Linked DNA regions of Homo sapiens. The protein of the gene in region 1 purifies or fractionates together with the protein of each later gene. This does not show direct contact. Each region holds a gene or a part of one and is shown on either strand. Other genes may lie near its edges.

The links. Proteins that work in one complex are often made in the same cells at the same time.
Region 2: the proteins of SMIM12 (region 1) and VRK1 purify together in Homo sapiens (affinity purification with mass spectrometry; one large-scale study listed by BioGRID and IntAct). This does not show direct contact.

What each region holds. Positions count from the first base shown.
Region 1 is NC_000001.11:34,857,632-34,861,383, reverse strand, and holds the start of SMIM12 (small integral membrane protein 12), read left to right. Parts: upstream 1-1,634; 5' UTR 1,635-1,707; exon of another isoform or gene 1,708-3,752.
Region 2 is NC_000014.9:96,849,233-96,852,884, reverse strand, and holds part of VRK1 (serine/threonine-protein kinase VRK1), read right to left. Parts: intron 55-3,652; coding exon 1-54. UniProt on the Homo sapiens protein: Serine/threonine kinase involved in the regulation of key cellular processes including the cell cycle, nuclear condensation, transcription regulation, and DNA damage response.

The DNA of each region.
Region 1 (3,752 bases):
TTCAGTGAACCTTGGCCCCTACAATACTGTTCCCTTTTCTCCATCTTCACTGCCAGAGCTTAGCTTTGAGCTGTTTGAGATAATAGAGGAAGGGTGTCTAATGTGATAAGCAGTCTATGTATGAGGCTTCCTCTGGAGGTGACCCTTAAGCTTGAAAATTGTGCCAGAGCACAATCTGGCATAGTAAAGAAAGGTGGGAAGGGCACTACATGGCCAGGCACGGTGGCTCATGCCTGTAATCCCAGCACTTTGGGAGGCTGAGGCGGGCGGATTGCTTGAGCTCAGGAGTTCGAGACCAGCCCTAGCAACATGGTGAAACCCAGTCTCTACAAAAAGTACAAAAATTAGCCAGGCCTGGTGGTGTGCATCTGTGGTCCCAGCTACTCGGAAGGCTGAAGTGGGAGGATCACTTGAGCCCAGGAGGTTGAGGCTGCAGTGAGCTATGATTGTGCCACTGCACTCTAGCCTGGGCAACAGAGCGAGAGTCCTGTTAAAAAAAAAAAAAAAAGCGGCCAGGCGCAGTGGCTCACGCCTGTAATCCCAGCACTTTGGGAGGCCGATGCGGGCAGATCACCTGAGGTCGGGAGTTCGAGACCAGCTTCCCCAACATGGAGAAACCCCTTCTCTATTAAAAATACAAAATTAGCCGGGCGTGGTGGTGCATGCCTGTGATCCCAGCTACTCAGGAGGCTGAGGCAGGGGAATCACTTGAACCTGGGAGGCGGAGGTTGCGGTGAGCCGAGATCACGCCATTGCACTCCAGCCCAGGCAACAAGAGTGAAATTGAACAACAACAACAAAAAAGGTGGGAAGGTAGATGAAAAAGCATCAATAAGGCACTGAGGTGTGAAACAGTGTGGTCTGCCGGGTTTAGTATGTGCGAGCAAAATAAATATGCAGGCTGAGATTAGTGGGATGAGGGTGGGAAGGGCCTTGTGGGAGCATTAACAAGCTTGAGCTTTGGGACTTTTCTGTATATGATAAAATTGATGTCTGTATAGGGTACAGTGGGGACACAGAGGAGGAAGTGAATACTTGTACCCAAGAGGTCATGTAAGACTTAGGTTTTACTATATTTGAATTATTTTTACACTAACAATAGCCACATTTATTTCCCTGCTGGCTGTGTGCCTGCCACAGTACTTTACAAATATTATCTCTTCCAACCCTCACACCATCCTTGCGAAATGGGTGTTATTACCTCTACACAGAAGGGGAAGGGAGGCTCAGACAGGTTAATAATGTTCCCAAGGTCACTAGAAAGCTAGCCCGGATCCCAAGAGGTCTTAAAGCACTAAAATATACTCTTCTAAGAAGAGCTTCTTGAGGTCAGGGATCATGTCTTTTGTTTTTGCGTGCCCAGACCTAGGTCTTAGAAGACGCCTAATAAACATCAGTTGAAAAAAATGACTGGATGATCTTTCACTTTTTCCACGCAGAAAACACGTGGCGACATCACTGAGAAACCTCCCGGCCAACAGAGGGCGCGACGTCCATTTCAGCGCAGTGGGGCCCAGTTGCGGACGCCTAGCTTCCTTCCGTCCTTTGGCTGAAGTTCAGCCAATCCCTGCGCTCCGAGAGAGCCGGCGGCCAGTGGGCAGGGTCACAGGGCAAGGTCCCGCGGGCCGCTGGGTGCGGCGACTTCCGTGCTCCCGGCGAGCGGGCGGAGAGCGGGGGCCGCACTGGGGAGTGTGGGCTGGGCCGCAGGTGAGCGCGCGGTCCCGGCGAGCAGGTCGGGTCAGCCCAGGCCAGTAACCTCTGAGTTACGGGAGGAGTGATCGCTAGGGTCCACCCCGGTCCCGGCCAGATCTGCCAGCTCCCCTCTCTGGCGGGTGTTCTGGTGCCAAGTCTGGGAGCCCAGGTAGCCCTCCGCAGACAGGGCTTCTCGGCACCTCAATGAGGACGGACGTTGATGAGGCCATGAATGAGGTGGGCTAGGGACAGGGGACCGGGAGACTCACAGAAGGGAGAAGGGTAGCCATTTGGATGGACCTTCGCCTTACTTGCGCTCCCATTCCTGGACTGCGCTCTAGTGACTGTCAGGGCTAATTCTTCCGCCTTCTCAGGCCTCCTGTGTCCTTGTTAGTAGTTCTTGAATTTGGGACTACGGCTTCTGGCCTCGTTGGGCCTCCGGGCCCTCGCACTGGGGCAGGTTTCCCAGCAGCCCAGTTGACCTTTACCGGATGCTTTTGGCAGACGTCCTCCATGCCGGGCTGGAAATATGCGTCACAGTGTTTTTCAGACACTTTTGCCTCTTTCATTGTGATACCCTGCCTGGGGACGACTATGATGGAGTCTTTAGGTTTTTGTAATCAGCAAAGGCATCTGTTATGCTCCTGCCACCTTTTGGGGGAGAGTGGGTGGAGGATGTTGTGATTTTACACTAGGGAGTTTGGGCTGTCATTCATTCGTTCAGCAGACCTTTTTTGGGCACTCTGCCAGGCAGGGTAGGAGAGGTGCCTGGATGGATAGGGCATAATTGGGCCAGACAGACACGGTTCTTAGCCTTTTGGAGCTTAAAGTGTCTTGAGAAACGCAGACAGGGTAAGCCAGCATCGTGCCTGACACAGAGTAAGTGGTTATAAGTGTCGAATAAAGGAATGAATTGACTTATTTGGGAATGATTAGAATGTGAGCAGGACGGTAGCGAGAGACTTTATGCTGCATGTGAGAGATAGTTGTGAACTCATGCGCGATATGTTTTAAGACAGGTTTGGAAATCTGAACGGACAGTTGCTATTTAGGGAAGCATTTACTTATACAGAGGACTTGCTTTAAAGGTGGAAGTAAAATGGAGAAGTATTAGGTTTGGGATTCTTCAGAGGTGCCTCTTTTAACTATTACTATGTCTCTGAATTTCATAAATCCCTGAGTACAATCTCAGAGTTTGGGAAAAGGAAAGCTCTTCTAGGTAATGAAATGCCAGGCTGATGGGAAAAAACTGTAGGAAGCTCTCCCTAAGTCCAGGGTTTGGACAGAAACCGTATACCTCTGCAGTGTGTTCTTCCCACTAGAAAGAGTGTAGGCTTTGAAATTGGAGAGGCCTGGGTTCAAAATCAGTGGCTCTATCACTTCTAGTGATCTTGGATAAGTTAACATAATGTCTGTGAGCCTTTGTGGCCTTCACAAGAGTCTGGGCTAATAATTCCTACATCATAGAGGTGTTATGAGGATCAAATGATGATTAGTGTGTAAATTGTCATCATAGTGCCTGGTGCTGAGACAATAAGCGGGGGAGTCTTGGAGATGCTGCAATTTTTTTTTTTTTTTTAAATTTCATGATGCTGCCTTATTGCAGGGGTCCTTAACCCCCTGGGCCACAGACCAGTGGTGGTCTTCAGCCCATTAGAAACTGGGCTGCACAGCAGGAGGTGAGCGGTGGGCAAGCTGGCAAGCATTACCGCCTGAGCTCCACCTTCTGATAGATCAGCAGCGGCATTAGATTCTCACAGGAGTGCAAACTCTATTGTGAACTGCGCATGTGAGGGATCTACGTTGTGTGCCCCTTATGAGAATCTAATGCCTGATGATCTGAGCTGGAACAGTTTCATCCCGAAACCATCCCTCTCCAACCCCCATCTGTGGAAAAATTGTCTTCCACGAAACTGGTCCCTGGTGCCAAATATAGATTGGGGACCGCTGCCTTATAGTGTTACGTCTAGAGAACATTGGGATTCCTTCAAAGAGAATTGGAACCAAAGAGAGAGGGGGAGAATCATCTTATCCTTGGTGAGGTTTCGATTGTTCACTTT
Region 2 (3,652 bases), on another chromosome or scaffold:
TCATATATTTTCTGAAGGTCACTCCCAAAGCGATCCATTATCATAAACCTGTAACTGAAGACAAATATGAAAAGCCAATGAACAAAATACAATGCAAGAAAACCAACTTTGTAATGAGTACTCTCAAAGTAATTTTTTCAAGACAATGTTTAGTAAAGAAGTATTCTTTAAAAAAGAAATACAAACATTTGAAACAATTTCTCCCAACTAGAAATCTCAAAGAGTTCAGAGTGCTTTCAGGTCCTGCTTTTTACCTGGAGGGCCTCTTCCTGGTCGCAGCTAGTTTCAAGAGACTATTCAATTTAAGATAATGCTCACAGAGAGAACCCAACAAGTTTATTCACGGTAAAAATAAAACAAGCTGAATAAAAATGACAGCATTGATTTTTCTCATAGTTAAAATTAATTCATGTTTCTGGATATCAGCTTCCTTCCTGTGACTGTTTCTCCTTATTTTTAAGGTATATTTCAGCAGTAACAACATTCTGCTAAAATCAAGATTCTCGTGAGATGCTTTAACAAAAGCCAGATTCAATACCATTGTTTAAATGGCGTAAAAGGATTGTACATTAAACACTCAATGGCCAAGATTTGGGGAAAAACAAATATCCTGAAAAAACATGAAGATAACTGGCTTTGCATAAAGCAGCTATGTCACCTTGGCTGAGTCACATTACTTCCTGGGCCTCAATTTCCACAGAAGTAAAATGAGAGAGCAGGGACTCACCCTTTCTAAGGTCACTTTCAACACCCAAAACTCAGATTCAATAATCACGTTATATTTCAGTATGTACAGAAAAGCATCACCTATTTGCAATAACACTGCTTAGCTTCTGCTCTGAGGACCACTTTTATCTTCAATAGTTTTCCAGATTCTAACTTGTCTGGTGAAATCATTCAGTAAATCAATAAAAATCAAAACCACACTCAGAATGTATCAGGACATCTCCAATGAGGAAGATTATGAATCATCAACACCATAACATCTAGCATTTACTGAACACCTGGTATGCACACAGCACTACTGTAAGTACTTAAAACGTTATTAATGCATTTAAACCTCACATCACTCTATAAAGTAGGTAACTCCTATCATACCCATTTTACAGCAGAAGAAAACTGATAATTTGTCCTCTAGTATGTGGCAAAATCATGCTTTTAACCCCTGTACTACATATTAACTGAAATAAATGTCAGTAGGATACAAAAATCCCATTTATATGTTATAGGCTTCTATGATAACAATATGACAAGTTCAATAGGGAAGGAAGAGTTGACTAACATTAAAAGACAAGATGTTGAACAAGTAACTCAGAATTCTATTCATTTTTGAACTGGAAGAAAATTAGAAAATCATCTTGTCTAAACATCTTTTAATAAATAAAATAACTAAGGTCTTTGGAGGTAAAGTGATTTGTCCAAGGTTATAAAATTAGTCAGTGGTGGCCGGGCCTGGTAGTTCACGCCAGTAATCTCAGCACTTTGGGAGGCCAAGGCTGGTGGATCACCTGAGGTCAGCAGTTCGAGACCAGCCTGGCCAACATGGTGAAACCCCGTCTCTACTAAAAACACAAAAATTAGCCGGGCACGGTGGCAGGAACCTGTAATTCCAGCAACTCGGGAGGCTAAGGCAGGAGAATTGCTTGAACCTGGGAGGCGGAGATTGCAGTGAGCCAAGATTGAGCCACTGCACTCCAGCTGCACGACAAGAGCAAACTCCACCTCAATTAAAAAAAAAAAAAAATTTGTGACAAAATATATTCATTCATGTAAGATTTCCTAGCACCTTGGCTTGTAAGATAATAAAGTGAAAATGGTAACTTTGACTTCCTGGTTTCCTTTGTGTAACAGATTTTGCAAGGTTGAGAGATGAGACCAGGGCACATATACATGTTGGCTTTTACTAAATAGGTGATGTGTGTAATGATTATAACATAGGATGAGCATCTCAAATCTGAAAATCTGAAATCAGAAGTGCTCCAAAATTAGAAAGTGTTTTTAGTGCCAACAAGATGTTCAAAGGAAATGCTCACTGGAGCATTTTGGATTTCCCATTTTCAGATTTGGGATGCTCAACCAGTAGGTATTAACGCAAATATTCCAAAATCCTTAAGAAATCCCAAATCTAAAATACTTCTGGTGCCAACATTTCAGATAAGGCATACTTAACCTGTAATACACAGGTAACAAAAATACAACCTCTGTAACAGCCTGAAAGGTGGCTAAAACACAACTGCTTAATTCAACATGGGGTCTATTAATAAATTCTGTTACATAGGTCTTTGTTTTTATTCACAAATCACCCTACCACTACTCTTAATAAGACCTTAATCTTGTCACCATACCTAAATCATAAACATCAACTGAAACATGATTCCACAAATTTCACAGAAACCATTACCACATTCTTCTGGAAAGACGGCTCTACCATTGAGTAGTAAAATGAAAGCTATTTCTAAGTAACTCCTCTAAAGTAAAACCTTTGATGTATACTTTTCTGGAGACTTGGATAAAATGTGCAAGTAAAAGAAAAATATAAATCAGTGTAAAATAATTTAATAATGGTAGCAGCTAACATTGCTCTAAGCCCTACATACATATTAATTCAAATGAGTTACAAGGAAAACTAAGCATGTCTGGCATGGAAGGGGGCTGGAAGAATAATCTACTTTCTATTTCTTTACTTTCTAAGACCTATAATGATTCTTTTTAAGAGCTTCAACCTAAAAAGTAAATCAATGCCTGATATATGACTAATGCCATCTTTTTAAAGGAGACATTTCTAGCAACCTCATTTTATAGAAGAAATGGGCTGGGAGGTAAAGTCATCACTAGTAAGTGGTGAGTTAAGACTTAGACTGTGTTCTCATTTGTCACCACACTCTAAGGCACTTCTGATCCACACCAGGGAAGTTCTTTCCAGCAGTGCCCAAGTCAGTCAGCTTACAGAGTCAACCTTGGACCCACTTAGTCCCTGGTCACCTCACAGGAGTCACACAAACAAAAGCCCTGTTTAACTGGTTCTGAACTTTATCATAAAATGGGTGATAAGAATGTATATGGTAAAATGTGATATGACAGTGTGGGCTACTTTTAAAAAGACCATCATTCTCAAGCAACATACCACCACTGACAAACAAAAATCATAGACAAACAAATGAAACCAATTATGATAATCACAGTGATGATGACTGCAAGAAACATTTCCTCAGCACTTACTCTGTGCCCCTTACAATTTACATGTTTTCAATTCATCTTCACAGTAATTCATAAAGTAAGCACTATTATCCTCATCTCACACATAGGGAAACAAGAGAGACAGAAAGTTAACTAGCCCATGACCACACCTGATGGAGTCAAGTACAATCAATCTAGTGCTAGATTTGTTTGGTGTTTAGGTTTTGCTGCAATATACCGTGCTTGGTTTTTTTTTTTTAAGACGTTTATACTCAAATTATGGAAAGAGGAAAAGGCTGTTATTCCAAGTCTAAAAATGCTCTAGCCCCAGGTACACTTTTCTTCCAATCATCTCTATGAAATGTGGTTTTCATAATGTACTGTTCCTTAGGAATATAACTATTGTATACTGGAGCACACAGTCAAACAGATTTGCTTCCTAGCAAGTCATCACTAAGGGTTTTTCTTGTCTTAC